6 separate regions of the Homo sapiens genome follow, and all the other regions are reported to be linked to region 2. Evidence: microRNA targets listed by miRTarBase, many of them from high-throughput screens and not tested one by one. Region 2 holds a microRNA gene; each other region holds the end of a gene's coding sequence.
What was found. Region 2 holds the annotated microRNA hsa-miR-6779-3p (AAGCCCUGUCUCCUCCCAUCU, at 1,764-1,784, opposite strand). A microRNA usually pairs through its seed, bases 2 to 8, with sites in the 3' UTR of a target mRNA and lowers its output. Matches are read on the target gene's strand: a 7mer-m8 pairs with bases 2 to 8, a 7mer-A1 pairs with bases 2 to 7 and ends in A, and an 8mer does both.

Region 1 (5,067 bases), not on the chromosome of region 2:
TCGAATGTAGGGTGAGGTGGCCTAGCTTTCCACCACGAGTCCCCCAGTTCACAGGGCCTTCCACTCAGTTCTTTGCCAGTTTCTTCTTTCATCCACCTGTACTTCTGACTGTACTTCACAGGCCTCTTCAGAAACGCCAGGGTGCACTGATAGAGGGAATTCCGATGACTTCATCCTGATTTCCAAAGATGATGATGGGAGCAGTGCCAGGGGCTCCTTCTCCGGCCAGGCCCAGCCTCTTCGCACCCTCAGAAGCACCTCTGGGAAAAGCCAGGCCCCAGTCTGCTCCCCACTGGTGTTCTCAGATCCACTGATGGGCCCAGCCTCAGCTTCCTCCAGCAACCCCAGCTCCAGTCCTGATGACGACAGCAGCAAGGACTCTGGCTTCACCATTGTGAGTCCCCTGGACATCTGACCACAGTGCCCAGTCCTGCCCCACAGGGATCTAGCCACCCTTCAGTGGCCCCAAGGCCAGACTGAGGCTCATCCAGTGGAGAACCTTCTTAAACCACTGCTTCCTTCCCGGCATGCATTTTGCATTGGTCCAGCCCTTTGAAACCCCTTAGAGAGAAGCATATATGGCCACAAAGCACAGAGGCTTAGGTTTGCCACATGCAGACAGGGCTTTCTGGGCCCTTACCTAATCCCCACCCGACTCTTGCTCTGAGTTAGAGCTGAGTTACGTACCCAGTATCACACTCACAGTTAGAAAAGACCGAATCACAATTTAGAATCACTTTTCCTCTGTCCCCTTCTCCCCAGCTAAGAATGTGTGGCACCTCCATCAGTTATACTTAGAAGGAGCAGAAATAGTTATTTTCGTATCTTCTATCCCTCAAAGCATCAGACATGGGAAAATTGGTTTATACCAAGAAAGCTTCCTCTGTGGAAATCTGTCTCAGCCTACTTTATTCCTGCATTGGGAAGCCATATCGCAGAGCTAAATGCAATAGAATGAACCAGAACTAGTGGATTCCAGGGCTGGGGGAAAAAAAAAAAGAAAAAACCTCATTACTGACCTCTCAAAGTTATAAGGATCTCTGCAAACAGGATCTAAGCTTAGGAATAATATTTAGGTGTGATATAGTGTTAGATTTTTTTGATGTATTAAAGAATGCATCTCCAATCCTTAGGCCATATCAACTTTGGCCATCAATATCTCTCCTTAAACAATTATATTTCACCTTTTAGAATCTTTCATAGCCAGAAAACAAGATTACTGTAAGCCAGTTTTAGCTGCACTGATTTCAAAAGATATAAGAATATTACTATCCTTCAAATGGAAAATGCGACCTTGACTTTATGGGATAAACATCTTTCAGACAGTCAGTTTTCTAGTCAGGTTTCTCTGGTTTCAGAGCTGTATATACCTGTCAACTGAGGAATAAAGGGAAAAACCCAAGTTCATTCCCACCCAAAGTCAGAATCCCTCATTGGCCTTAAGGTAGCAGTCATAAGACAGAGAATTGGACCTAGAGTCCCTTCTGTGGGGAATAAGGATACCTAGAGAACATTCCACATGCCAAGAGGATGCAGGATTTCTACACAACCCCTTCCCTTCTTGGAAGTCAAGTGTAGGTACTGCAGGGCCTGTGCTCAGCTGTGAACCCCGTATCCTGGGCCCCACTGCCGGGACCGGGTCTGACATGCCAGTGCCTTCCTGGGCTGAGCACAGATTAGAGACTCTCCCCCTTGTCAGTCAGCACCTTAGGAAACCATGATGGGCACAGAGCATCACATGAGCTGTTTCTCTCCTTAAAGAAGATCCCTGGAAAGGATGCTTTTCCTCTCCTTTGCCTGCGCAGGAATTCTAACAGGAGTGGGTGAGGATGGCAGAGGGACACAGTGCCTGTCTCGCCTCCATCAGGGAGAGCAGCCATGCCAGGGATGACTAGCTCTTTGAGCCTGTCCTCAGAGGATGGCGAGGCAGCCGGGCAGTGGAGGCCTTCATGGTAACAAATGAAAGCTCAGTATAGAGGAACAGACACTGTTTACGTCCCTCCCACTGCTAACCTTATATATCTCTATAGACAAATGTGATAATGACATGATTTCCCACCTGCCCTCCAAGAAAATGGTGACTCACTCTCAAGTCAGCTACTGTAGAGAGGGTTCTAATTGGTTCTGCAATTTGCTCTTAAACTCTAGCAGGGAACTCTCCTCTTACCACATCAGCATGTAAGGTGAATAATAACTGGTTTTGCCAGACAGCAGGTTGTCTGACCTTCAACCACTGGGCAATTGCCTGGCAGATGCACACAGTAGCTCCCTGGCTTCTGGCTCTGAGTGTTCCTCTCAGCACCTCTGAGTAAGCTGCTGCCAAGCACATATCCCTATGACAACACTTTGTAAAAGCCGCGGGGCCCCCATACAGCGAGTGACCTTGCAACTGTGCAGGGTTGCCATTGGTCACTTTCTCACCTTGGGAAGGTGTCAGTGTTTTCAGTTCTAAGGTAAGAGGTGTAGAGCTGTTCCCACCAGGGCTCTGGGACAGACTGGAAAGGACCACAGACCTGGCCATCCCTGGGCAGCAGGGCCAGTGTCACCTGCTGACCTCTAGTATTTCCTTTGCCCTAGAGCTAGAGTCATGATAGCTGAGGGTCACTCGCCCTGCAAGAGTCACTAGGCACCCACCATGCCAATAAGGCTCTCCGCTGGCTCCCTGCAGTTGGCTGGGTGTTTAATAGTCACTGAAAACTCCCAGCCCTGCTGCACACTAGAGGCAGGTCCTCTCGGTCCTCTCCATCCTGTGCTTCTGTGGCCCCCAGCAAGCTCACCACCTCCTTGGAGGAGAGAGACATACAAGGACAGTGGGTCATGGGTAGTACCAGCCTCAAATTCCCACAGGCTCATACTCAGACAATTGTATTACTGCCTTATGTTTTTTAAGTGTTTTTTTAAATTCTTCATAGTTGAGTATTATTTGCAATTTTATTAGTTACAGTGCTATTAAAGAATATGTGCTCCTTTTTATTATATTATCAGATACTTATGTTTAATTGTACATTTTTTAAATCCTGAATATATTGTGTTTTGTTAACAAATGTAATCAGTGGAACCCTTCTTACGTTTTGATTATTAGCAGTTAAATACATTTTGTATACATGAAGCTTAGATTAATTCCCATCATCATCATCTCCTGTTTTTATATGTGTCCCTATGTGTTTCATGCATTCCTCTTTGATCAGATTGGAATTTGAGTTAAAATTTAGCTTTGTACATTACGTGTGAGAGTTACAGACTAGCAAGTCTAATTACTTTGCCTTACCTTGAGTGTATGCCACAGGGTCAGATAACACATTAAACATTTAGTTACACTGGATTACTCTTCCAAAGCTGACCTCCTGCTAATGTTCAGAGGTAACTGCAATCCGGAAAGAAATAATATCACTGCAGAAAGAATGTGACTCTAAAAATAAACCAGGACCTCCCTGTGATTTGCCTTGCCTGCAGATGACCAGTTGACTCTTGTGCTGTCAGCCCTGGGGTTGCTAAGGAAGCTGCTTCAGGGAGTTGGGGGTTAGTTGCCCGCTCTCAACAGGAATGCCTCCTCTACTTTGTCAGAGATGCTGAACAAATATCAAACTCTGTGGCAGTCATGCTGGCCTCCTAAGAATAACCTGTGAGTCAGAGTTGATGCACATTATTTTTGTTTTTATTTTATTTTTTTAAGGAACTGCTCCAAGGGTTCATTATAGAACAGGAGTGTGTACGGAGGACTTAGGTCCCCACATAGAGTGGCCGTTCTGTGGCGGCTCCAACCAATTCCATCCCTCCTTTCCTGCGGACACACACCTGGCCCCTGGCCCCTGCCCTGTGTGTCTGGAGGAGGGGCACTGGGGAGGCTGTGGAGCAGAGAGAAGAGGCCGGATACATTGAGGATGGCACCTGGCAAGCCAGGCTTCCTTCTCAAAGGCCAGACTGCTTTCTCAGTGTTACTTACTAAAGCTCTCTTTTTATACTGTTAAAAAGATATATAAAGTTCGTATAAACAGGCTTGAGACCACTTTGATGTAAAAGCTGTCATAGTAGTTTTTCTCACAGTGGCACAATTCATTTGATTGATGGAATATTCAGTGACGCCATGTATGCCCTATCGCTTTTTTCTCATCCATCTTTATGCTATAACTCATACTGATTTAAGAAATGATTTCTCCTTTTGGCAAAGCGACCCCATTCAATATGGTTATAATAAAAGACTAATGTCAAACTGAGACTATAGCTTGACTTATTCCAGGCCACGCGTTGGGGCACAAGGTGCTGACCAGGCCCGGCCCAGAGGAGTCCCTCGGAGTGCATAGCCAGGTGGGGCGTGGACGATGGAACCATGTCCCAGCCCGGACGCAGAGGTTGGTCCAGCCCCAGCACTGTGGTCCAGCCTCACATCACCACTGGGCAGGTCCTAGGCCTCGCCCAGGGCTCACACCCAACTCTGACATTCCCTTCCTCTCTAACTTGGGCTAGTTTCTTAACTTCTGGGGCCTCAGTTTCCTTATCTGCAAACTGAAGAGAGTAGTCACCTAGTTCATAGGGTGTGGTGGGGATTGAAGAGGATAACAATTGAAAGGACTTAGCACAGAGCCTGACATACCATGAAATGCCCGACAGTTTCAAAGACGATGCTTAATTCTGGAAGAGCCCCTGGAGGTCATGTAGTCCTACCCCGACCATTGACAGCCAGGACCTCAGAGGCTGCTGGGAGGCCCGGGTCGCACCCTGAGGCAGCCCTGCTCAGCCCACTGGTCCAAGAGACCATTTTGGGGGCAGCCCCAGTGGCTTGCTATCCATCAGCGCCAGGTTTGCCCTGGTAGCTGCACTTCCACCAATCCAATGTGGGATTGGTGAAAAGGCCACAGGTGAGGTTGGGGGAAAGGTGAGTATAGTCTTAAGTGACAAACTAGGAGGGATGGGGAGGGGGATCTCTATAGCTTAGGCAGAGCCATCATGCCAATGGCAGCTTAGAATTTGCACCTGGGCCCATCTCTAGCCTGGGCCTCTGTCCCCAACCCAGCTAGCAAGTAGCTTTTCCTCTTGTGGGGCACAGCCCCTCCCCACAGGTTCTACCAT
Region 2 (5,069 bases):
CAACCTCCACCTCCCAGGTTCAAGCAATTCTCCTGCCTCAGCCTCCCGAGTAGCTGGGATTATGAACATGCACCACCATGCCGAGCTAATTTTATATTTTTAGTAGAGACAGGGTTTCACCATGTTGGCCAGGCTGGTTTCGAACTCCTGACCTCAGGTGATCTGCCCACTTTGGCCTCCCAAAGTGCTGGGATTACAGGTGTGAGCCATCGCACCCGGCCAAATGTCTTTTTTCTTTGGAGATATTGCTCTGTCACCCAGGCTGGAGTGCAATAGTGCAATCTTGGCTCACTGCAACCTCTGCCTCTCGGGTTCAAGCAATTCTACTGCCTCAGCCTCCCGAGTAGCTGGGATTACAGGTTACAGGCATACACCACCACACCTGGCTAATTTTTGTATTTTTGGTAGACAGGGGGTTTCACCATGTTGGCCAGGCTGATCTCGAACTCCTGACCTCAAGTGACCTGCCCGCCTTGGCCTCCCAAAGTGCTGGGATTACAGGCGTGAGCCACCACCCCCGGCCAAATGTCTTAATCCAGCTGCTTTCTATCCATCCCTCACCCTGCTGTCTTTCTCTTCACAGCGTGTCACCGCTGACCTTATGTTATACACCTATTTTCTTATTGTTTTCTTGTTTGTCCCCCTGACTGGAATGTAAGCCCCCAGAGGGCAGAGAGGTGGCTTTATATTCAGAGATGGACCCTACACATCCAGGACAGACCCATTGAGGAGGGAGGGACTGGCTGGGCTGCCTGGAACCTTATACTTCAGACTAACTCTTGCGCCCACAGTGCCCTGGGCAGTCCTAACATCCCTTTGTTTGTGTGCCCAGAGCATCAGACTCCAGCCAGCCATTATCTCAGGCGATTTTATCTCTCTAAGTATCTGTTCTGCTCCTACGTGAGCTACTTTGAATTCCCAGGCACCCAGCCTGGAGGCGCTGAGCCTGCCAGGAGCTTGGTAAGGGTGGCTCAGCGGCACCCATGGGTGGAGTGAGTGGCAGGACTTACAGAGCCGGGACTTCAGCTCTGAGGGCTCAGGAAGCCTGATCTCACCCCATTCCTGCTGGGCTTATTCACTTGCTCTAGGCCTGGCTCAGAGTAGGTGAACCAGACGGACGCTGCCAGGGTCCCCAGCCCAGCAGGGGACACAGAGAAGGTGACCAACACGAAGAGCTCTTTTTAGTTGGAAAAAGTGCTCTGAAGGCAGCCAGCGGAGTCGAGTGATGCAAAGCATCAGGGTGATGCGCTTTACACGACATGGCTGGGGAGGCCCCTCAGAGGCAGGGGCAGCCTGAGAGCTGAAGGATGTGGGGGCCATCCTCATGAAGCGAGGAGAGCAGCGCCCAGTGCTGGAAGGCCCCATGCAGAAAGTTGCCTTGTGTGTTCCCAGGTAGCTGGGGTAAGGAAACCCCACCCAAAGCAGGGTGAGCAACCTGCCCATGGTACACCAGGGCTGGAACGCAGGGCCCCAGTCCCAGCCAGCCTCTGCCCACTACGCCAACCAATTTCCTCTCTGCTCACAAGGCTGAGATCCTTATCATCACACACAACAGAGGGTGGGTGCAAAGGTCAGGAGAATCCATGAGCTGTGTCCAAGCCTTCCCGAAGGACCCCCTGCCTCTGGCCTCTCCCCTCCGGCCAGGGTTACTCACCCCGCCACCACCTGGGGCGCTGCGCTGTATGGAGACTGGGGCTGCAGGCTCCTTGTAGCCACCATAGGACTGGGCCACCGGCTGCTGCTGGGGCTGCTGGTAAACTGGAAGATGGGAGGAGACAGGGCTTGGAAACTGTCCTGCCAAACCCAGCCCCTCCCAGAGCTCCCGAGAAGTCCATACCATGCACTTCCACCCCGCCCCCAACCTGGCTCAAGCCCCACAGCTCAAAGGCTGATGTCCACGTGTGCACATTTGCCTGTGTGTTGTATCCCACGCAGGGGCTCTGAGCCCCATGACCTGGGGGCCTCTCCTTTCAATCCTCTTGGCCCAGTACAGGCCTGACCCTGGTGCTCACGTCCTCATTCTGGATGAGAATGGAACTTGGGGTCTTGGGAAGCAGTCTTTTCCTCGCCTGCATGCGTGCGTGCATGTGTGTGTGTGTGTGTGTGTGTGTGTGTGTGTGTGTCTGTCTCTCGCCGACTTCCTCCCCACCCCAGCTGGCCCGGCCTCAGGTCCTCTGGTCCCCTCTTGCACACAAGAGGCATAATCGCCTGTTGATTAAGAGCAAGGCTCCGGAAGGTGTATCTGTCTGTCTGTCTTCTCCTGGCTTCCTCCCCACCCCACTGGCCTCGCCTCAGGTCATCTGCACCAACAGGACCTGCACTCACCCGGGGCACTGGTCGGGATGTGGTGAGGCTGCTGCTGCTCCAGGGGCCGCCGGTAGCTGCTGCCGTCCTGTGAATCCCGACGCTCTGGCTCCATGCCCTCGCCCCCGCTAGGGCCCATGCGGCTCTTCTCAAACTCCTCATGGTATTTTATCTGCAAGGTCAGAAGGCACTAGGTGAAGGGTCCCACTGCAAACCACCCAGTTCCTTCCCGTGACCCTCAAGATCCCAGGATGGGAGAGACTACCCAAGAGCTTTGGGTACAGAAAGCCAGGTCTCGCTCTGGAAGCACCAGCTGTGTGTCCTTGGACAAGCTACCTAATCTTGCCAAGCCTCAGTTTTCACCTCTGCAAAATGAGACACCAGTCTCCCTCAGACACTGTTGGAGAATGCAATGAAATGACCGATGTAAAAGGACCATGAGAACTGAAGAATCAGACCAAAGTGAGTGGTCCCTTTTCTTTTTTTTTTTTTTTCGAGACGGAGTTTGGCTCTGTCGCCCAGGCTGGAGTGCAATGGTACGATCTCAGCTCACCGCAACCTCCACCTCCAGGGTTCAAGTGATTCTCCTGCCTCAGCCTCCTGGGCGGCTGGGATTACAGGCGCCTGCCACTACGCCCAGCTAATTTTTTGTATTTTAATAGAGACAGGGTTTCATCATGTTGACCAGGCTGGTCTCAAACTCCTGACCTCAGGTGATCCACCCGCCTCGGCCTCCCAAAGTGCTGGGATTACAGGCGTGAGCCACCGTGACCGGCCAAGTGGTCACTTTTATATGCCTGCGGCAGGGGCGGGGCTGCTCTGTTTCCGCCTGGGTCCACAGTAACCACAGCAGCAGCCCGTTTCCTGAGCTCTTACTGCGCCAGGGCCGTGCTAGGTGTTTTATGTCACAGGCTCATGTGAGCTCGTCAGCGCCCCTGAGGGGTAGATTGCAGACCCCATGTAACAGGCAAGAAGGAAGCGAAGGGATTGATAAGTGAAGTGAGTGGCCCAAGATCACAGATTCCAGAGCCTTGCTCTTCATCAACAGGCGATTCCACCTCTTGTGTGCAAGATGTCGTGGGTACTACAGCCTAGGATGCTCCGCTGAGAATCCCAGCCTTTAGGGATAAAAACTGCCAGACCCTCCCTGAGGGCGGGACATTGTCTTGGATGGGCTCCTTCTCGGGTCAGGTTCCAAAAATGAGCAGAGAGGCCCAAAGAAGTCATATCCCTCAGGACCACCCCACTAGGCGGGCATGTGAGGCTCCAAGCCTTCAAGTCAGTCTCTTGCCCCCACAGTGCTCTACTGGCTACAGAGTCCCCCACCTTGACCACCACCACCCAGGAGTCTTGAGTTGGGCCTCATGTTGTTTGAGGGCTGTGACTGTGCCTGCCTGGGGCTGGCTGCATTAGCCATCAAGGTCAGGAGGGCAGGGGAGGCAGGTGCCCACCAAGCCAAGCTGGGGAGGGGAGGGAAGCTGCACTCTGCCCAGACCCCTTGGGTGCTATGGTGGAGGACTTGGCCAGTTTGGGGGAACCAGAGCCCCTGCTACCTCCATCAGAGACCTAAGCAGGGTCAGCCAGAGGAAGCCCCACCTCCACTACCAGAAAGAAACCTCAGGGTCAACTGGCCCATTTGTGTCCAGAGCCTCGGCGCCAGCTCAGTCCTCTTAGCCAACTGAGTTAGAGAGAAATGGTCGTTCATTCACCTTGTCTTCTTCAGGCTGAGTCCCATGGTGGGACGAGAACACCGGCCTCGGTGTTCCCTGCTAGATCCAGATCCTGATTGGCCCCAGGCTTCCTCCACCTCCCATCCCCCATGGCACCTTCTCCAGACACAAGCCCTTTCCTCCTCTCAGGTCTGAAAACTGTCCAGATGGCCTTCTGGGGCTGTGCCAGACTCCCAAAGACAGGCCTGCCAAGGTCTCCTGGATCTCAGCCCAAGAGCCAGACCCTGGAGAATCACGGGTGACTCCTTGTGCTTGCGGCACCCTGACCCTGTGGCAACCAGATCCTGCGGCACCCTGGCCCAGCGGCACCCTGGCCCTACCCTGACCCTGTGGCACCCTGGCCCTACTCTGACCCTATGGCACCCTGGCCCTACCCTGACCCTGTGGCACCCTGGCCCTGTGGCAATCTGACCCTGCGGCACCCTTGCTCCCTCTCTCCTTCCTCCAGCCGCTCCATGCGGCGTAAGGCCCACACTTTCACATCTCATGTGCCTGGATCCAGCTGCTCTAGCCCCACCTGGGCCAGCCCAGAACCGGCCCCTGGGCCCATATGGGACAGGGGAAAAGTCAAGGTCCCTATTCCCAGGCACGCATATATCAGGTGGGTTTTGAGGCCTGATATATGTAGTTCTTGAGGCAGCAAGAACTACACCACAAGAAAGGCGGGTGGTGAGGCCGAGCACGGTGGATCACGCCTGTAATCCCAGAACTTTGGGAGGCCAAGGTGGGTGGGTCACTTGAGGTCAGGAGTTCGAGACCAGCCTGGCCAACTTGGTGAAACCCTGTCTCTACTAAAACTACAAAAATTAGCTGGGTGTGGTGACGGGCGCCTATAATCCCAGCTACGCGGGAGGCTGAGGCAAAAGGATAGCTTGAACCTGGGAGGCAGAGGTTGCGGTGAGCCAAGATCATGCCACTATACTCCAGCCTGGGTGACAGAGTGAGACTCCGTGACTCTGTCTCAAAATGAAAAAAAAAAGACAAGTCATAAAGCCTCACATACATATCTCATTGCCTCAAATGGGAAAAGACCTC
Region 3 (5,065 bases), not on the chromosome of region 2:
ACTCCTGACCTCAGGTGATCCACCCGCCTCGGCCTCCCAAAGTGCTGGGATTACAGGTGTGAGCCACCGTGCCCAGCCTGTTTATTGATTTAACAGCAACATTTATTGAGCTGTGTCAGGCATTATTCTCAGTGCTGAAGTTATAGATGTGAGCAAGACAGACCGCCTTTGCCCACAAGCAGCTTATGTTTAATGGCGGGGCATGAGATGTTCTAATCAGTGGGGGTAACATCACATAGAACAATATAGTATGTTAGCAGGTGAAAAATGCAGGGTTAGGGTGATGGAACTATTGGCCTAGTGCTCAAGGAAGGAAAAGAGGGAGGTGTGAGGGAATTATATGGCCAGGAGAAGGAACAGGTGGTGCAAAGCCCTAAGTGGGAGCACCTGGTGTGTCTGAGGAGCAGTGAGGAAATCAGTGTGGCTGGAGGTAACAGAAGGACCAATATCATGTGGGTCTCACAGACCACTATGATGACTTTGGCTATCACAAATAGGAGGAACTGTTGTGGATTTTCAGCAAATGAGATGTGATCTCATTTATGTACTAACAGAATTATGCTGGCTGCTAAGCAGACAGCAGACTGGAGGGGTAAGTTTGAAAGCAGGGACACCAGGCAGGAAGCTCTTGCAATAATTCAGGCAAGAGAGTAATGTGGCTTGGATCGGGGAAAAGAGTGGGCATGCTGAGATGTGGTCTGGTCCTGGGCACATTTTGACCACAGTATCAACAGGATACTTGCATATTCAATGTGGGGTATGAGAGAAGAGAATCAAGGGGACTCAAGGTGTTTGACAGGATCTGGCTGCCGTGGTCTGAGCTGGGGGAGGCTATAGGTGGAGTGTGTCTGGGGATGACCCAAAGCTCAGTCATATGTTTGGAGATGCTCAATTAGGCATTTACATGGAGATGTGGAGTAGGCAGTTGTCTACTGAACCCAAAGTTCAGGAGAAAGTTTGAGCTGGAGATAGAAATTCCAGTTTTCAGATGGCATTTAGAGCCAAGAGGCTGGGTATGTTGATGGGGGAGTAAGTGTGGATGCAGGGGAGGAGAGGACTAGAGTCCTGGGCAATCAAGAGTTAAGGCCCAACTTGAAACTTGGCCACTGCTCCCCTGATGGGAGGATGTTCTAGCAGATGCCTCCTTATTGAGGACCCTCCTCAATAAGGGTTCCACGGGCTTCTGCTTCAGGGCAAGTCCCAGGTTGAGATATCCCAGGACTGAAGTGTTGCTTTAATTAGTCTCTGCCCTCTGTCTGTTGGCAGTTTAGCAGCTTAGGGGCAGTGGCTCCTGGTGACTTCCCTCCATTAAGGACCCTGAGGCAGTGATCCAGGTAAGGGTGGGTAAATAAGCATCATTTTCCCCATTCACCTTCTTTCTCACTGTCTTTCAAGGAGCCGGCGCAGCGACACTTCTTCTCCAAGCACGACAACCGTACTTCCTTTGACAAAGTGAGTGCCGAAGACAGGAAGAATGGCAGGCAGTCCCCCAGCCTAAGCTGAAGTCTGGACAGAGCAGATGGTAGGGTGGAGGGGATGACACTGAGGGAGGGCTCCTTATGAAGGCAGAGGAGTGGCTGTCTTCCCCCACAAACTTTCTCCTCTGGGAAACAGCCTATTCCCCCAAACAGAGACATCTCTATGTTGGTTTCCTCTGCCAACTTGCCAGACAATATGCAAGTATCCTGTGGGCCACTAACTTTCTGGGTGCTTCACCTTAGAATGAAAGACATCACTGGGGAGGCAGGCCAAGGAGGCCAGGGTACAGGCCAAGACAGCCAGGCATAGGACAGGTATCACCAAGCAGACTTGGGGTTAGGAGGGGCCCAAGAAGGTGCTTGGTGCCAGGAATGTGGGCCAAGGGCCCATACCGTTGAGGAGGGTCCCTATTGCCTGCTGCAGGGAATCGGAAGGCGGAAGGACCTGGAGCGCCTGTGGCAGCGGCACACCTTCCTGCGCTGGGCACCCTGTGAGATAGAGTTGCGCCAGCAGGGGCCCCTGGAATCTTCTTACCAGGCTGATTTCAGGCCAGGCCCAGGACTCAGTGGCCTCCCCCAGCACCTCATCCACTTTGTGCAGGTCCAGCCTTCCCATACCAGGACCACCTACCAGCAGAACTTCTGCTGCCCATCCCAGGGTGGCCACTATGGCAGCTACAAGGTAGGGCCCCAGGCGCCGGTCACTGACGTACTGCCTGACCTCCCAGGGATCCCAAGACCCAAGCTGCTGCAGCACTACCTTCATGCTGGGGTCTCTGAGTGTCTAAACTGGTCCAGAGCATTAAACAAGGACAGCTGACACAGCAGCCTGTCTGTGCTTGCAGCCCACAATGGGATGTAGCCCAAGAGGCTGAAAGGTAGTAGTAGGCTGCCAGGTCCTGTGCCTGTCTCCCATGGCACTTGTGCCCATGGTGTGTTTCTGTGCTGGGCATGGGAGGTGCTGCTCTGGGATCCCTGCCACTAAGTGAGAAAGGGTAAGGCCTGCAGGAGGCTAAGAGTCCAGGAGGATTGCTATAGCCACATCAGGTGGGTTCCAGGGCCCCAAGTACTACTCTGTTCTTGCAGTAAACCCAGCTGTAGAGAGGAAGATTAGAGGGCAGTCCCCAGCCTAAGTTGAAGTCAGGACAGAGCAGGTGGCAGGGTGAAGGGGGTGACACTGAGGGAGGGCTCCTTATGAAGGCAGCGGAGTGACTAACTTCCCCACAACCTTTCTCCTCTGGGAAACAGCCCATTCCCCCAGAGACATCTCTGTGTTGGTTTCCTCTGCCAGCGTGCCAGACAATGTGCAAATATCCTGTGGGCCACTGACTTTCTAGGTGCTTCACCCTAGAATGAAAGGCATCACTGGGGAAGCAGGTCAAGTACTCAGTTTAGCTATGGGGAAAGCAGACCCCAGAGACCAGTACTAGTGGGCGACAAAGGCTGGAAGAAGGAAGAGTTGGCAGCTTTCTCAGGAGGCAGCTGCCTTTGAGGGGTTTGTTGGGTGGCCACACAGTCCTGTCCAAGAGACGGCTGCCCCACAGCTGAGACAGAAAGAGACTGCCCTGGGCCACAGAACCCACTGCACCACCCCTCCCTGTGGGGGTGAGCAGAGACCCTAAGGAGACACTCTGTAACTTGGATCTGGAGGTCTTCCTAACCTTGTGGTATTCTGTTGTTTTCTGAGCACTTCTCTGGTCATCTTATCCTGCCATCCTTTGGTGACATGTGACAGCCCTTCCTTACTGCCCTAGTGCTCTCTAATCCCCAGGACAGTAAGGAGGCGCTGTCATCACATGTTGCCAAAGAATAAGCTGAGGCTCAGATGGAACAGAAACACCAAATCACTTTGGGAACACCGACCAGATCCAAGAGGCTCCTTCTGGACCCTCATCCCTAGGGGCATTGAGACCCCCAAAGGAAGGCAGGGGCAGTGGAAACAAGGGAGTTCACACCAGGGTCCACACACTAGGTTTTAGCAGCACTTTTACTTCCACATCCAAACTCCCTGGGTCCTCACAACAGCCCTGTGAGGTAGGTAGGGTAGGAAGGTTTCAGAGATCCCCATTTATAGATGAGGATGCTGAGGCACAGAGAGGTGAAGTGACTTGTCCAAGGTCATACAACCAGCAGTGTAGAGGGCTCAAAGCCAGCATTCCTCCACTTGAACTCCTGCGCTCCGGCCCTCTGGCAGTTCCCACATCCTCTCTATTCTCTCTGTGTCCCCCACCCTCTCAACTCTCCTGGGTCTGCAGGGACCCTAAAGGCAGCCTGGCAGCTGAGATTTTTCAGGAATGGCAACTGGGGTAGGCCTGGTCAACTCCAGATAGGAACTGACCCTGAAGAGCATGAGGCCAGCTTTGCTTCTCCCCATTTCCCAGTTGGATGGAAGGCCTAGTAGGTCCCAGGGCAAGGATGGAGCTAGGCATGATTCATGAACGAATGGTGATAAAGGTAGGTGTAAGCATATGTGTGTCCTGCACTAAAGACAAAGGCTCCCCTAACCCAAGGCCCCAAGGCAGTGTTTCAAGTGCTCACCCCCATGCCTCTCTCATCCCACAGAGCCACAGTGAGTGTCCTCAGCAGCAAAAGGAGCCATAGAAATAGCTGCCTCTGGCAATGAGCTGCTCCAGTGGACAGCTCCCACCAAGCCTTCAGACCCCATCACGCAGACACAGTGCCTCCACGGCTTGACTGGGGCCCTGGGCCACACCCCCAATAACAAACAGCCGGGGCCCAGCCTGCAGACTAGAGCAGGAGCAGCGGGCAGTGGGCATGGCAGGCAATGCCTCCCAGCGCCGCCGTGCAAGGCTAAAGCTCTCCACAGAGCCCAAAGGACATGGCTGGTTTCCTGCAAGAAGGAGAGAGAAGGCTGTGAGAGGCACAGGCCGTAGGGACTCCAGGCCCTTCTGCTCCCTAAGCCCAGAGAATAGCCCAGTAGTTATCACCCCAGGATGAGCTATCAGGGCCTTGCTCCTCATTGCCTATGTTCATCATTTGTTCATTCATTTATGTTTCTATATGTTCTCTTGACTGTGCATACAGTGGTCATTTGTCCTGCTGCTGTCTCGTAGACCCTTGCTGGTGCTTGACAGAGCCCCCAGTCACTGAGGAACACCCTGAGTGCTGGGCCAGGCAGACCACATCCTGCCTACTTCATAGATAGGGAAAAGAGCTCACAAAGCCCTGACCCCTGGAGTGCCTGGAGATGGGCAGAAGGTGACACACATGCTGGGGGCTAGTCTTTCCTGTCTTGGGACTCCCTCCTCTCCCCAGCCCCATAGAGACTTACCAAGGCCCCCAATGGCCACAATGTGGCCCCCAAGGGACCCAACCACAAAGTCTGCCCTCTTATCCCTCATGCGCAGGCTGCGGGGCAATTTGGTCCAGGACCCTGCAGGAGAGGGGAGGTCAGATCTAGTCATGTACACACTATGCCCCTCCATCCCACAGAGAGCGGGAGGACAGCCCAGAACAGCCACTGCTCACCATGCTCCAGGTCAAACATCTCCACAGTGTTGACAAAGTGTGGGCGAGAGTAGAAGTTGTGGGGCCCAGGCTGCTGCAGGCCACCCAGGCTAAAGACG
Region 4 (5,069 bases), not on the chromosome of region 2:
GGGGCCGCGAGCGGCAGTCCGCGGGTGGGGGCCGAGGCGCCGTGCGCACCCTCTTCCTGCTGGGCACGGCCTCCAAGCAGGAGGAGCGCACGCACTACCAGCAGCTGCTGGCCTACGAAGACCGCCTCTACGGCGACATCCTGCAGTGGGGCTTTCTCGACACCTTCTTCAACCTGACCCTCAAGGAGATCCACTTCCTCAAGTGGCTGGACATCTACTGCCCCCACGTCCCCTTCATTTTCAAAGGCGACGATGACGTCTTCGTCAACCCCACCAACCTGCTAGAATTTCTGGCTGACCGGCAGCCACAGGAAAACCTGTTCGTGGGCGATGTCCTGCAGCACGCTCGGCCCATTCGCAGGAAAGACAACAAATACTACATCCCGGGGGCCCTGTACGGCAAGGCCAGCTATCCGCCGTATGCAGGCGGCGGTGGCTTCCTCATGGCCGGCAGCCTGGCCCGGCGCCTGCACCATGCCTGCGACACCCTGGAGCTCTACCCGATCGACGACGTCTTTCTGGGCATGTGCCTGGAGGTGCTGGGCGTGCAGCCCACGGCCCACGAGGGCTTCAAGACTTTCGGCATCTCCCGGAACCGCAACAGCCGCATGAACAAGGAGCCGTGCTTTTTCCGCGCCATGCTCGTGGTGCACAAGCTGCTGCCCCCTGAGCTGCTCGCCATGTGGGGGCTGGTGCACAGCAATCTCACCTGCTCCCGCAAGCTCCAGGTGCTCTGACCCCAGCCGGGCTACTAGGACAGGCCAGGGCACTTGCTCCTGAGCCCCCATGGTATTGGGGCTGGAGCCACAGTGCCCAGGCCTAGCCTTTGGTCCCCAAGGGGAGGTGGAGGGTTGAGGCCTACGTGCCACTGGGTGTGGTGGGGTGCAGGTAGCCAGAAAGGGACCTCCCTGTGTGGATAATTCTAGGAAACTGAGGCCCAGGAACGGTTGGAGCTGCCCAGTCTGGAGGCCCTCTCTGAGGAGCGAGGCGCCAGGCCCTGGCAGCCCTCCTGACCTGGGTCCGTTGCTGGCCCCCTCAGATGTGGTGGGAGGTCCTGGTGACCTCTGGAGGAACGCTGTGCTCAGGTACCTGGGCTAGGCCTGGCCTGATGGGTCTGTGGCCGCCCCTCGTCTTCACAGGGAAGAGTCTTCTGTGAAATGCCTCAGTCTCCCCAGAGGCCGGGCGGCCCTGGCAGGAGAAACTCAACCCTGTGCGGGCTCACAGGCACCCCCCAGTCCACACCCTGGTCTCCTGGGAGAGAGGGCCCAGCCGGCTCTCCGCAGCCCCAGGCCTGCCTGGAGACGGGCCGCCTCTGCCACAGGGCCTCCACTCCTGGCTGTGTCCTGTAAGGTCTGGAAGGGCGACCGCTCTGACTACCTCAGCGCCCCTCAGAATCTCCCTGGGGCTGCAGCCCTACCCCACCCCGACACAGGGCAGAAGAGCAGCGCTCCTGGCCCCCCGAAGTCCCAGAGCTGCTGACCCCCACCCCAGGCAAGTCTCTCCCGCAGCCCCCACACCCCCAGGCCTGGCTCCCTGGCTGGAAAGCAGCCGGTTTGGCCCTGGAAGTGGACATTCCTCTATTACTGTGAAGTTTTATTTATGAAGAATTTGGAGGGAGAAGGCTCCAGGCTTCAGGAGGGGGTGGTGTCCTCCCTGGCCCTCCTCCCTTCCCTCCCCTCATTCCAGCTGCCTGCCCTCAGCACCCCCAGGCCCCTCACAGCCCAGCCCCCTCCAGAGCCCTGCCCCACCGCACCCTGCTTCTCCAGGGCCTAGCAGACCAGCATCTGCCCCGGTGAAGGGATGGATCAGCTGTGGGGGTGGGTGCAGAAGGTTGCCACCTCCTACCTCAGCGGGAGTCACCTAGGAAAGATGGAGGGATTGACACTATTTTCTCAATAAAATGGGACTTTTTTTTTTTTTTTTTTTTTTTTTTGGTGTGAAACTTCCTGTTCCCAGCTGCATCAGAGAGCCTGTCTGGGGCCAAGGTTGCCAGAGATTTCTGAAGACACAGCTTGTTCCTTGTTCTTGGCTGGTGGGTGCACAAGGACTTCTGGAAGGGATTTAGACGGGGCTGAGTGCTAGGATTAAAGTGGGGATGGGAGTACGGCAACAGAAAAACCTGGGAGCTAGCAATGCACCCAGCCCTTGACTGTGCCCTGGTGGACAGCCGAGCTGTGGCTCTAGCGTGAGCCAGTGCCTTCCTGTCCCTGCCAAGGGTGAGGCCAGAGTTGGCCCCGAGGCTAATGTTTCAGTGGGTGAGATTAGGTCGGCCGTACAGAGGCCGGTGGGCTCCCTGACATCCCTTCCAGGCAACCTGAAAGCACTGAAATAGCTTATGGCCCTGTGCCAGGGACCTTGGCCCAAGCTGCTGACCTCCAGGGTGGGGAGGGAGCTACCCCCAGGAGAAGAGTCACTCAGACAGCAGTATGAGCAAGCCAGCCAGCAGCTCCGTGCCTGCACCCAGCTCAGGGGAATCCCAGGGGGTTCAGATGCCCAGGAAGGAAAAGGGGACAGCGCTACTGCTATGGAATGAGACCACCACTTCTCCTGTTGTCCTTCCCAGCTTCTCCCCAACCTCCCCTTTTCCCTAGTTTATAAGACAGGAGAAAAGGGAGAAAGCAAAAAGCTGGAAAGAAACAGAAGTAAGATAAATAGCTAGACGACCTTGGCGCCACCACCTGGCCCTGGTGGTTAAAATGATAATAATATTAACCCCTGACCAAAACGACTGGTGTTATCTGTAAATCCCAGACATTGTGTGAGAAAGCACCGTAAAACTTTTTGTCCTATTAGCTGATGTGTGTAGCCCCCAGTCACGTTCCTCACGCTTACTTGATCTATTATGACCCTTTCACGTGGACCCCTTAGAGTTGTAAGCTCTTAAAAGGGCTAGGAATTTCTTTTTCGGGGAGCTCGGCTCTTAAGACGCGAGTCTGCCGACGCTCCCGGCCGAATAAAAACCTCTTCCTTCTTTAATCCGGTGTCTGAGGAGTTTTGTCTGGGACTCATCCTGCTACATTTCTTGGTTCCCTGACCGGGAAGCGAGGTAATTGACGGACGGTCGAGGCGGCCCCTTAGGCGGCTTAGGCCTGCCCTGTGGAGCATCCCTGCGGGGGACTGTGGCCAGCTTGAGCTACGCAGATCCTGAGAGCACTCCCGGGTAGGCAATGCTCTTGACGGGTGGAACACCTCGTCAGAGCAGTGTGTGGCAGGCCCCCGTGGAGGATCAGCACAGTGGCTGAAGGAACGGGCACTTGGAGCCCGGACATCTGAAACTTGGTAAGACTGGTCTTTGGAACTTGCCCACTCCATTTGAGTGGAAGCATGTCCTGATCACCCACGGTGTGCCTGTACCGGCACTTTGGTTTTTGTTTTTGACTTGACTTGAATTGCTTGATACTTTGGTTTTGGTTTTGACCTGGCTTGGATTTCTGGATACTCTGGGTTTGGTTTTGATTCTGGTTTGGTGTAAACTGAAAAAGTGTGTGTGTGCCCTTTTTACCCATTCTTTGTTCTGTGGTGTGCGTGCGGTGTGAGCTTGGTGTTTTGTCTCAAGGAAACACGGGTCAGACACAAGGTAAGCCTACTCCGCTAGGAACTATGTTGAAAAATTTTAAGAAGGGATTTAACGGAGACTATGGGGTTACTATGACACCAGGGAAACAGAATTTTGTGTGAAATAGATCGGCCAACATTAGAAGTGGGTTGGCCATCAGAAGGAAGCCTGGACAGGTCCCTTATTTCTAAGGTATGGCACAAGGTAACTGGTAAGTCAGGACACTCAGACCAGTTCCCATACATAGACACTTGGTTACTACAGCTGGTGCAAGACCCCCCACAGTGGCTAAGAGGGCAGGCAGCAGCAGTGCTAGTAGCAAAGGGACAGATAGCCAAGGAAGGATCCCGCTCTACCCACTGGGGGAAATCAACTCCTGAAGTTCTGTTCGACCCAACATCAGAAGATCCATTGCAGGAGATGGCACCAGTGATCCCAGTGCTGCCCTCCCCTTACCAGGCAGAGAGGCTCCCTACTTTTGAGCCCACAGTGCTTGTGCCTCCGTAAGACAAACATATCCCTAGGCCACCCAGAGTAGACAAGAGAGGAGGTGAAGCCTCAGGAGAAACCCCTCCCTTGGCAGCTTGTTTAAGACCCAAAACTGGGATACAAATGCCCCTGAGAGAGCAGCGGTATACTGGGATAGAGGAGGATGGTCACATGGTGGAGAAGCGTGTTTTTGTGTACCAGCCCTTCACCTCTGCCAACCTTCTCAATTGGAAAAACAATACCCTGTCCTATACTGAAAAACCACAAGCTCTAATTGATTTGCTCCAAACTATTATCCAGACCCATAACTCCACTTGAGCTGATTGCCACCAGTTGCTCATGTTCCTCTTTAACACAGATGAAAGGCAGAGAGTGCTCCAAGCAGCAACTAAGTGGGTACAGGAACATGCACCGGCTGATTACCAAAACCCCCAAGAGTGTGTAAGGACCCAGTTACCAGGAACTGACCCCCAGTGGGATCCAAATGAAAGAGAGGATATGCAAAGGCTAAACCGAGACAGGGAAGCTGTCTTGGAAGGATTAAAGAGGGGAGCCCAGAAGGCCACAAACGTTAACAAGGTCTCTGAGGTCATTCGGGGAAAAAGAAGAAAGTCCAGCACAATTCTACCAGAGACTGTGTGAGGGCTATCGTATGTATACTCCCTTTGATCCCGTTAGCCCTGAAAATCAGCGAATGGTTAACATGGCTTTAGTTAGTCAAAGCGCAGAAGACATTAGAAGAAAACTGCAGAAACAGGATGGGTTTGCAGGGACGAACACATCACAGTTATTAGAAGTAGCTAACCAGGTGTTTGTAAACAGGGATGCAGTAAGCCCTAAGGAAAACCGCAGAGAGAATGAACGTCAGGCCCGGCGAAACGCCGAGCTGTTAGCTGCAGCAGTCGGAGGGGTCTCCTCAAAGAGGCAAGGGAAGGGGGGACCCGGGAAAGAGACTCAGCCTGGCTGTCAGAGCTTGCAGTGTAACCAGTGTGCTTATTGTAAAGAAATAGGATATTGGAAGAAC
Region 5 (5,069 bases), not on the chromosome of region 2:
GGAATGACGGAAGCCAGCCTAGCAGAGCTAGAGAATCAAACACCAGATGAGGAGGAACTGGAATCCCAAGGCAGTTTCACTGTCTTCATACATAGTTCCCTGGGCCCAATCCAGAAGCCCCCAAGCCAGCAAAGCTCCTATGCCTGCTAAACCCTAGCACCTGAGAGCCAAAGAGGTTTTGTAGAGAACCTGGTCTCTTAGTGATGGGGACATGGTACCTTAGGAGTCCAGTGAGCAAAAGAATGAACCTCTGATTGTGCTTCTCATGTGTCCCCCAAACCCAACAGGTTCTGTTTGGATTCTGCAAAGCAGACTCGTCAGAAAGTTGCTGTGAACTGGACCAACTTCAGCCTCAAGAAAACCACTCCTAGCACAGCTCAGTGAGGTACAGAGACCCCAAGAGTTACATCCACTGCCTCTCCCTGTGCTTGGCCACCCTCTCTGTACGCTCACCAGACCATTCTGTGCTCTGGGGCACAGGGAGTTGGACTTGGGGCATGGGATCCCTGGCTTCTGTCTGCATCTTCACAGCAATGGCAGGCTACAGCCTCCAAAGGTCAAGGCCCCATCTCCTCCCGCAGCCACTCACCTGTAGGCCTCTGTTCTATTACTCCTCCCTGGGCCCTGCTGCCCATGCTCCTGAAGGTCCCCTTCCTGGACTGGCATCTCCTAAGGCATAACCATCAGGGTCTTAACCAGCTGATTTCAAAAGTGCCCAGGTAGCCATCAGACCCATGGGGCTGCCCTCACCCCTGATGTTATCAGTCCTTGTGTCAAGTCCCACTTCCTGCCCTGGGCTCCTCAGTGTAGGCTACCAAGGTACTTCCCAGCTGAAGCAGTATAAGAAGGGGCCAGCCCTGAGTGAACATCGTGGGTCATTTAGGCATGGAGGAGTTGATGGGGGCTACCCAAAGCAGGGCAAGCTCCATGAGGATATTGGTAGCCACAGTGCCTCCTAGAGGAAGAGACCTGGGTGCCAGATGGCATTGGCATCCCCTCCCAGCCACCCACACAGGTCCTTTTGTCTGAAACAATGATGTACCAGATGATGATCTGGACTGGGAACAGACAACTGGAGAAGGCACTGGGCCTGGAACCCTATTGATGAAGAGAAGGGCAGCTAGCAGGCAGACCTTGGGCTGGGGGCTGAGTGGCTCTGCAGTTTCATATCTCAACCCTCAGCTGTGTCCCTGGGGTCAGGCCTTTTCCGGCTGGCAACCACACAGCTGTCCTGGAGACTGGAAGGCTGGGGCAGGCAGACTGAGCTCACAAACAACTCACTTCCCCCATGATGGCCCCACCTGTCTTTCTCCTCTTTCCAGTGCCAGGCCAGCTCCTCTCTGGGCCTAAGCAGCAAACTTCCTGGACCCTCAGCTCCCCAGGGGCAGCTCAGAGAGCCTGCAGCCAGGACAGCCTTCAGAGCTGGGGCTCCCTGTGACCCTTGTGCTGCCCCAGAGTCCAGACTGTCTTCTTTACACTCACTTTAGTCCTCCTCTCCTCTGAAGGGGTTGGGCTCAGTCAGCCCCCTTTGCCAAACTGAGATGCCCACAAGCCCCAGAAGTATCTTCCAGATCCAAGGTGGCCTCCTGCCTCTTCTCCACCTCCATGGGAACCAGGAGTAGCAGGAACCCCAGGCACTTCATCTGTTATCCCTACTGAGAGAAAAGAGATCGCATTTCCTCCCACAAGCCCAGTTCTGTCATTCAAGAAATCAAATGCAACTGTCTCCTTCCACTGCCTCCTCTTGACCCTTTTTCACCTGGTCTGGCCTCTTTTCCAAGATAGAAGATGCCCCTCTCCCCACCCCCTAGTAAGCGCTCTCCTTTGAGCCTCTTCACCCTCCCCCGGGCTGTGCACCTACAGTCAGAGGCAGGAGCACAGCTGCACAGCTGGCCTCCCAGCCCCTGCTGATGGACAGCAAGTGCCAAAGGCTGGATCTACTCAAGGATTGTCCCCCACCTTGTCAGGATCCTGGGACTGGGGCTCTGTCTCCCAACCCGTTAACCTGCATCCTCTGCTACAGGTGATCCAGGGAATCTTCAACATTTTCAGCCCAGGGAACAAAAATAGCAGCCAGCTGTTTCTGCTACCAGAGACCCATGGGTACCCAAGTGGCATGGGGAGGCTGGAGCATGGCTCATTGCTTACTGTGATTCTGCTCTTTTTTTCTTTCTCAGGCCCTGCCCAGGCTGAGCTGCTTCAGGGCGTCCTGAGGCCCTGACTGCCAGCTGAAGGCGTATAATTTTTCCCTCCGTGTGCCCCACCTACCCGTCCAAGACCCTCTGTGCTCCCCACCATCCTGGACCAACCAAAAGCTGAACGGATGCCACACTGTGCTGGGGCCCCTTGACCTCAGCAGAGCCGCTTCCTGGTGCTACGCAGCCTCCACACTCAGAGCCCGTGGACTGGGCTGGCCTAAGGGCCAGGGCTGATGGTACTGCTGGCCCAACACTGCTCTCTTTGTGTTTGGTTTTTTTGTTTTTGTTTTTATTTTGTTTTTTTCCAATTCTTTACTTTTGATACTGTGAAGATCTTTCGTGCCGAAAGATAAAGCAACATTTGGACACAGAGTTGGCATGTTGGTGATTTGTGGGTCTGGGCGGGGAGGGAGTTGAGGGTGTGCTCAGAAGCATGGGCTCTCCCTTAGTCACTAACCCTAGCATGCACCATGCATCAGCAGTTTGGTGCTATTGTCCCATTTTACAGGTGAGGAAACTAAAGCCGATAGGAAAGTGACTCAGCTCAACTTAGTCTGGCTGATTAGCATTGAGCGCAGACTGGTATGATTATGGCATCTGTGCCCTTTTCTCCTTTTGGGAGGTCTCTGGTATGTGAGCCTGGGGCAGCCCCTTCCCCACTCTTTCCTGTTTCCCTCTTTGCAAGATGGGTGAGTTGGAGGGGTTGAAGATGGTCTCTGTGCATCTGGATGTGAGAAGAGGTCTAGGAAAGACCCTGAGGCCTTCATGGATCTGTAGCCTGGGCCATCGAGGCCCCTCACACTGACTTCACAGTCAGGGGAAGTTGGGGGTAAATTGAGTTTTTTATAAATTAGATCTGATTTTCCAGTGGGGGTGGGACATGTAGCTGAGGGCTTGAGAGTTAAGAGGATAATGAACTCTTCTGTAAAGTCAAGCAAACTACCTCATCCCCCGAAATGGATCTGGTTTGTAAATTTGGATTTTAATACAATGAGTTTTCCCAAAATGCCCCTGACACACTTGTGTCCAAACTCCATGCCCCAAATTTAGTTTTCGCTCCTAAAACCAACTCGAGGTTATGTGGGGAGCTAACAGGGTCACTAAGAGCCATGTATTTGGGTGTTGTGAGCAGGACCAGAAACCATGTCCTCCATCCCTCCCAGGTTGAGACCCACCATGGGACTGGCAGTAAGCACCAGCTTATTTTTTTTATAGAGATGGGGTCTTGCTATGTTGTCCAAGCTGGTCTTGAACTCCTGGCTTCAAGCGATCCTCCTGCCTTGGCCTCCCAGAGAGCTGGGATTACAGGAATGAGCCACTGTGCCCAGCCTAAGCTTTCTTTACTAAAGAAGACTTCATGAATTCCTGTGTATCCTTCACATCCCAGCTAAGAGGCCATTGTACTGTGAAAACTATGACACTTCGAAAAGCGGTACCTTGTCTTAGGATCTTTCTCTTTAAGACCAGTTATCTGTCTATATTTCTAGTCTCAATCTACATAAGCTCCTCGCACACCAGGTATGTGTCTTGATTATCATCTGCTTGAGCGCAGTGCCAGCGCCCAGCACACACTCTTGAAGGCAAGAAAGCACAGAGCTGACCAAGTCATTCCTTAGAAGTCTCTAATAAAGTTGAAACCACTTACTCTGACAGTCACAGCAGGCATGCTCTGGTCGCAATCTCCTTTTCTGGCCTTAGGTCTGGCTTCCCCATCCCACCCTTGCCGCAATGCTGTTGCCTAGTGAATCTGTGTACTTGCACATCGCCAGACCTGTATTCCTGCAGCGCCCTGGCCCAGGACGCCTCTCCTCTCCCGGCCTGAGATTGCCATGTATTTGGGTGTTGTGAGCAGGACCAGAAACCATGTCCTCCTCCATCCCTCCCAGGTTGAGACCCACCATGGGACTGGCAGTAAGCACCAGCTTATTTTTTTTATAGAGATGGGGTCTTGCTATGTTGTCCAAGCTGGTCTTGAACTCCTGGCTTCAAGCGATCCTCCTGCCTTGGCCTCCCAGAGAGCTGGGATTACAGGAATGAGCCACTGTGCCCAGCCTAAGCTTTCTTTACTAAAGAAGACTTCATGAATTCCTGTGTATCCTTCACATCCCAGCTAAGAGGCCATTGTACTGTGAAAACTATGACACTTCGAAAAGCGGTACCTTGTCTTAGGATCTTTCTCTTTAAGACCAGTTATCTGTCTATATTTCTAGTCTCAATCTACATAAGCTCCTCGCACACCAGGTATGTGTCTTGATTATCATCTGCTTGAGCGCAGTGCCAGCGCCCAGCACACACTCTTGAAGGCAAGAAAGCACAGAGCTGACCAAGTCATTCCTTAGAAGTCTCTAATAAAGTTGAAACCACTTACTCTGACAGTCACAGCAGGCATGCTCTGGTCGCAATCTCCTTTTCTGGCCTTAGGTCTGGCTTCCCCATCCCACCCTTGCCGCAATGCTGTTGCCTGGTGAATCTGTGTACTTGCACATCGCCAGACCTGTATTCCTGCAGCGCCCTGGCCCAGGACGCCTCTCCTCTCCCGGCCTGAGATTGCCACGCTTCCCTGGAAGCGCCCCCCAGGCAGCTCTGTTAGAGCATTTACAGTAATAACCGTTTACATTTATACAGGGCCTCCCACTTCAAAACCACTGCCATCCGTATCTGATGCGTGCCCCACCAGTGAACGTATGTGTCACACAGGCGCAGTCAGGGAGGCAGGGTGTGTCGAGCGGTTTATCCCGCAACCCCGGCGTCCCCGGCAGGGATGAAAGCGCAGGGCCCACGCGAACTCGGCCCGCAGCTCCCGGCCCTAGAGGACGCACTGTCCGCCGGCAGGGGCGTGCCCAAGACGCCATGCTCTGGGAGAGGTTGGGC
Region 6 (5,069 bases), not on the chromosome of region 2:
GTGCCCACCCCACCCCTTCCCTCTTCTGAGAGGCCTCTGTGGCCCCTCTGCCCCCTTCCTGGCCCCACGAGAGTGGAGGGGGAGACTGTGCAGGGGGGAGCCATCGGGCCCTCAACCCTCTCCCCAGAGCCTAGGGCCTGGCCTCTCCACTTACTGCAGGGCACCGCAGTTCCTGGGGGACGGTCCAGCGGGGGACACAGGGCCTCCCTCTGGGGGCAGCTGCCCACCTCCTACTTGCCTATCTACACTCCCAATGTGGTAATGCCCTTGGCACCACCACCCACCTCCTGTCCCCAGTGTCCGTCAACCAGCCCTGCCTACTGGGGGGTGGCCCCTGAAACCCGAGGGCCCCCAGGGCTGCTCTGCGATCTAGACGCCCTCTTCCAAGGGGTGCCACCCAACAAAAGCATCTACGACGTTTGGGTCAGCCACCCTCGGGACCTGGCGGCCCCTGGCCCAGGCTGGCTGCTCTCCTGGTGCAGCCTGTGAGGCTCTTAAGACAGGGGCCACTCCTCCCTCCCGCTCCCACCCCCACCTTGTTGACAGGGAGCCAAGGCGAGGCGGCTGTCTGCGACCACAGCAGCCTCGAAACACCAGGCAGCAGCCTTGCTGGGAGTCCACGGTGTTTATTGGGCCACCCCACGCATGGCCGTGGCCCAGCTGGGCACAACCCTCACCCTGGTCTGTCATGCCTGTTTTTCCTACACTCAGCGGCAAAGCTGCAGGAGCAGGGCTGAGCCTGGAATAGCCCTTCCTAGTCCCCTCTTCTCAGCCCACTACCCATCCATCAGTCACCAGCCGTCACCTCCCCTCCCGTGCTCCAGGCTGGGGGAGGGAGAGCCCAGTGGTGGATCCAGCCTGAAGTCCTGCCCTCTCTCATCTGTCTGGAAAGGAGGTAGCACCTTTTTCGGGAAACGGGTTAGGGAGTAAAGACTGCACCCTACATGGTCCTGGTGGTGGGGGGGATAACAGTAAAGGAATTTGCAACGTTTTAATGCCATGCCTGATTTTTGGGTCAGGAGTGGTGACTTGGGTAACCACTTGGCGGGGGGGCCTGGGATTCCCTGCTGTGTGCCGTGATAACAGCAAATGGTGATAAGGAGAAAGCCAAGACCTGTGGCCTGATGCAGGGCTGGGGGCGGGGGGTGATCACTTCAGCAGGCACAACACACTTCACTGGCTGCGGAGGTGGAGGGGTGACTCTGGGAGCTCAGGGGCAATGGATCCAAAGAGGCTAGGGAGCTTGTGCCCTGGGAGACGGGGTACAGGGACTTTACTACCGCCTCTGCCAGCAGAGACCTGGCCTGAGACCCCATGGGCAGGGCCGCGACCCAGGACTAGAGGGGCAGGCCCTCTGCGGGCGCGAGAGCCGAGCCCGAGCCGTTGTCGGGACTGGGGCATGGAGGACTGCCAGGGGACGGCGTAGGGGTGCAGGGGGTCCCGGTGAGCGGAGTGTCGGTGCTGAGGGAAGAAGGCGTCCCGGAGGAGCGCGGGACCCTGCGGCGCCGGGCTGGCCCCAGCTCCACTTGACCCACTCGGTCGGCGAACTTGAGGGAGCAGACTGTCTCCCCGAGATCCTCCGGCCGCGTGGAGATCTGCGGGCAAGAGGCGCGGGTGGGCGGGCCCGGGTGGGCGGCGACCGGCACGCACACACCTGCCCCGCCCCGGCGCCCACCTGCAGCAGCAGCACCGCGGTGGTGCCTGGGCCCAGCGCCGGCTGCAGCAGTCGCGTGAGCTGCGAGTCGCGGAAGGGCACGTGCGGCCGGTGGGCCCGCAGTGCGGCCATCACGCCTCCTAGCGCCAGCAGCGAGCGGTTTATGGTCTGGGCCTCCCGCAGGCGCCGGGCGCCGTCTGGGTCTCCCCGCGGCGGGCCGGCCGCCCCTGCCTTCCGTGCGCGTTCGGATCCCGCCAGGTCCACCAGGTGCAGCGTGCCTAGAGGGGCGAGCGAGCCCGACATGGGGGAAGGCCGGGCCTCGGGTGCTCTGGAGACTCCGCAGGGCTCAGGCACCGGCCGTGGTACCTGCGGTGCCTGGAGCGCGCGGTGGAGACGCCGCGCGCAGCGTCAGCGTGACCAGGGCATGCGAGCGGGAGCTGCGCTGGTTCATGGCGGTGGCGGCGGTGGCCCGGTTGCTCCTCCCCAGTTTCAGCATCTGGAAGGCGGGGCGAAGGGCTGGTCAGGTGCAGGGTCCCCGCCCCCAAGTGGAAGCACGGGGCGGGGTCTCGGAGAGCGGTGCAGCCCTACCTGGTGCAATGTCTCCAGGTTGGGCACGTCCCAGTGGGTGAGGCCAGCCACCTGGATCCCGCCCTGGCCTTCTGGGCCCTGCCTCACGGCCAGGCGCTCGGGAGGCCCTGGAGCAAGGAGGTCCCTGGTGAGAAAGGGGAAGGTCTTGGTTCCAGAATTCTCTGGAAATCCGGAAGGGCCCTGGGCCAGGGGTGGGGAGAAGGCCTCCCTGGTGGAGTAGCCCACCTGACAGCCTCATTGTAGATCTCCACCATGCTGAGTGTCACCCGGTGCTGCCGGCCGGCCCCCATCTCCCGGAACAGCGACTGCAGCGCCCTAGGAACTATGCCGGGGTCCTCAGGAGGGCCCTGAGGATGGGGTGGGGTGCACACCGGGCTCACATCCAAGTCATGCAGGGCCCCTGGGGCCTCTCCCACTGGGGCGTGAGCTCTGTCCCACCTCCATGCTGTAGGTCTTCCCGGTGCCTGTCTGGCCATAGGTGAAGATGCAGACGCTGTAGCCTCGGAGGCAGGACAGCACCGCAGGTTCCAGCTCTCTGAAGACCTGCGGGAGGCGGGAGAATGTGTTTTGAGTCCTCCCCACGTTGCCTGTTTATGCCCTATTTGGTGGGGTGGGGAGTGCCACGAAGGCAGGTGTGAGCAGAGCCTAGTCTCCTGGGAGGATGGCTCTAAGGGACCATGGGGGAGGGTGTGTCCTACAGAGACCCTCTGTCTCCCTAGAGAAGGTGGTGCTTGCAAGAATTTGCCAGGCAAAGAAGGGAAAAGACACAATGAGAAGAGGAACAGCCTATGCAGAGGCTCTGGAGTCCTGAAGACCACGTAGGAGACCTGGGGACAGCAGTTAAGAGCGCAGGTGTGGTGTCCTTAATGTGGAAGCCAACGTGAAAAAAAGAAAAATAAATCCCAGCATTTTGAGAGGCCAAGGAGGGTGGATTGGTTGAGCTCCGGAGTTTGAGACCAGCCTAGGCAATACGGTGAAATCCCGTCTGTACAAAAACTACAAAAAAATTAGCCAGGCATGGTGTTGCACATCTGTGGTCCCAGCTACTCGGGAGGCTGAGGTGGAAGGATCTCTTGAGCCCAGGAAGCAGAGGTTGTAGTGACCTGAGATTGCACCACTGCACTCCAGCCTGATGACAAAGTGTGACTGTCCAAAAAAAAAAAAATACATATACATATATATGTAGTAAAAAATTTTAAAAATGTTTAAAAGAGCCCAGATGGGCTGGGCGAGGTGGCTCACGCCTGTAAACCCAGCACTTTGGGAGGCCAAGGCAGGCAGATCACAAGGTCAGGAGTTCAAGACCAGCCTGGCAAACGCGGTGAAACCCCTGTCTCTACTAAAAATACAAAAATTAGCCGAGCATGGTGGCACGCACCTGTAATCCCAGCTACTTCGGAGGCTGAAGCAGGAGAATTGCTTGAACCCAGGAGGCGGAGGTTGCAGTGAGCCGAGATCACACCACTGCACTACAGCCTGGGCAACAGAGTGGGATTCCATCTCAAAAATAAAGAAAAAAAAAAGAGCCCAGATGTTGGGGCGTGACTGCACGGTTCAAACCTGGGTATGATTGGAGCTTACTCATTGGCCTTCCTGTGCCTCACTTTCCCCTGAGAGATAAGGGCTGCAGTGGCACCTGCTGTGAACACTTGTGGCAGTGCACCTAGAGGGCCGGCCACACCAGTACCTGGCTCACAAGGCGTGACCCCAGGAAGGGCCTGCAGGTACGGGGGATGGTGGCCAGCCAGGCCTGCTGGAGCCCAGGCACAGACAGGTGCTGAGAGAGACACAAGGTTAGGACATTCACCCCATTGGCACTGGACACCAACAGTCTTTTGAGCAACAACATGGCTGGCTTTTATGCCCAGAAGGTCGCTGCTAACAGGGTGGGCTGTCAGCTCTGTTTGAAGACAGCCACAAGGCTAGAATCTAGAATTCTGTGTTCTGTGTGGTCACTGAGGTTCCATGATTGGATGGAGGTGGCACTGAGGATGACATTCAGGAGCACATCATGGCACCACTGCAGAAACAGGAACACAGATGAGGGGCTTGTCCACAGATGCCTTTGGTTCAGACACATTGACTGAGAGGACCCTGTCCAGGACGGCTGTCCAGAGGACGGTGCACAAGGCATGCCCTGCGCAGTGCTGCAGTGTGGGGTGGGGCTAAGGCCAGAGGGATGTGTGGGATGAAGGAAGAAGTGGTTGGAAAAGAGGCAATCAGGGTGACCCTGGCCACCTGCTGGGCAGTCGTCCCCCTGTCCCTGTGAGGCTGGCAGGCAGCCTGGTTGGGAGTCGCTGCCATTCTGCCCCTTACCTAGTCTCCCCTGGCTCTGAGCTGCCATCTCCTTAGCTATGGGAGCTGTAGCAGCAAAGGGCATGTGCAGATGAAAACGTGTGTGAAAGTGGGGTGGGCTGGGGCTGAAGCCCCTGCTTTTCCACAGGTGTCTGGCAGGAAAAGGGTGGGGAAGGAGAGTGGGATCCAGGCAAGGCAGAGAGAGCACACTAAGACTAGAAGGTTGCCTCCTCACCCACGGCCCCCACCACCCACCGCCTGCCTTGGGGCCATAAAGCAATGAGGGGCCCTCATAGCTGGGCAAACCCTGGACCCCAGCAAAGGGGAGTGGGCAGGCAGTGAAGCCTGGGAGGAGGAGGCACCAAGCTGGGCTGCCTGCCCTGCTTCCCAGCCCCCTCGGTTCCCTTTCCTTCCTGGCTAGAGCCCAGCCACCCTCTCTCCTCCAGGTGGACACCCAGACTGGGAAGGGGAAACTGGAGCCTCTCCTGCTCTTCAGGGAACTCTGAAAAAGGGTCAGGATGGCTGCAAAGGC

Region 1: the mRNA of TBC1D5 is a reported target of hsa-miR-6779-3p. Seed matches in the 3' UTR shown: 7mer-m8 at 620-626, 7mer-m8 at 977-983 and 7mer-m8 at 2,479-2,485.
Region 3: miRTarBase lists KLHDC8B as a target of hsa-miR-6779-3p. Seed matches in the 3' UTR shown: 7mer-m8 at 3,502-3,508.
Region 4: the mRNA of B3GNT7 is a reported target of hsa-miR-6779-3p. Seed matches in the 3' UTR shown: 7mer-A1 at 2,886-2,892.
Region 5: the mRNA of FAM193B is a reported target of hsa-miR-6779-3p. Seed matches in the 3' UTR shown: 7mer-m8 at 2,424-2,430.
Region 6: miRTarBase lists FOXH1 as a target of hsa-miR-6779-3p. Seed matches in the 3' UTR shown: 7mer-m8 at 729-735 and 7mer-m8 at 1,128-1,134.

The regions. Positions count from the first base shown.
Region 1 is chr3:17,156,311-17,161,377 of GRCh38, reverse strand. TBC1D5 (TBC1 domain family member 5) reads left to right here. Exons shown (of 23, transcript NM_001349074.2): 23 at 122-4,210. The coding sequence ends at 415. Among named protein-coding and RNA genes, the nearest start is that of PLCL2-AS1, 100 kb to the right of the region's middle. RefSeq lists enhancers at 1,959-2,459, 2,460-2,960.
Region 2 is chr17:38,911,732-38,916,800 of GRCh38, reverse strand. It overlaps MIR6779 (microRNA 6779), which reads right to left and starts at 1,822; the gene lies at 1,759-1,822. LASP1 (LIM and SH3 protein 1) reads right to left here. Exons shown (of 7, transcript NM_006148.4): 5 at 2,326-2,476; 6 at 1,655-1,758. RefSeq lists a silencer at 1-126 and an enhancer at 3,930-4,889.
Region 3 is chr3:49,174,869-49,179,933 of GRCh38, reverse strand. KLHDC8B (kelch domain containing 8B) reads right to left here. Exons shown (of 6, transcript NM_173546.3): 4 at 4,968-5,065; 5 at 4,771-4,872; 6 at 3,448-4,329. The coding sequence ends at 4,133. It overlaps CIMIP7 (ciliary microtubule inner protein 7), which reads left to right. Exons shown (of 4, transcript NM_001080528.3): 3 at 1,396-1,452; 4 at 1,882-2,300. The coding sequence ends at 2,298. Among named protein-coding and RNA genes, the nearest start is that of KLHDC8B, 5.8 kb to the right of the region's middle.
Region 4 is chr2:231,398,189-231,403,257 of GRCh38, forward strand. It overlaps B3GNT7 (UDP-GlcNAc:betaGal beta-1,3-N-acetylglucosaminyltransferase 7), which reads left to right. Exons shown (of 2, transcript NM_145236.3): 2 at 1-2,976. The coding sequence ends at 737. Among named protein-coding and RNA genes, the nearest start is that of B3GNT7, 5.0 kb to the left of the region's middle. RefSeq lists enhancers at 1-121, 374-921, 922-1,467, 3,109-3,654.
Region 5 is chr5:177,517,290-177,522,358 of GRCh38, reverse strand. It overlaps FAM193B (family with sequence similarity 193 member B), which reads left to right. Exons shown (of 9, transcript NM_001190946.3): 8 at 288-385; 9 at 2,178-2,570. The coding sequence ends at 384. Among named protein-coding and RNA genes, the nearest start is that of DDX41, 2.9 kb to the right of the region's middle. RefSeq lists an enhancer at 5,034-5,069.
Region 6 is chr8:144,469,658-144,474,726 of GRCh38, reverse strand. FOXH1 (forkhead box H1) reads left to right here. Exons shown (of 3, transcript NM_003923.3): 3 at 1-1,315. The coding sequence ends at 489. It overlaps KIFC2 (kinesin family member C2), which reads right to left. Exons shown (of 18, transcript NM_001369769.2): 13 at 2,681-2,785; 14 at 2,468-2,589; 15 at 2,243-2,366; 16 at 2,021-2,150; 17 at 1,676-1,932; 18 at 525-1,595. The coding sequence ends at 1,338. Among named protein-coding and RNA genes, the nearest start is that of FOXH1, 3.7 kb to the left of the region's middle. RefSeq lists enhancers at 1-427, 428-1,323 and a silencer at 2,226-2,285.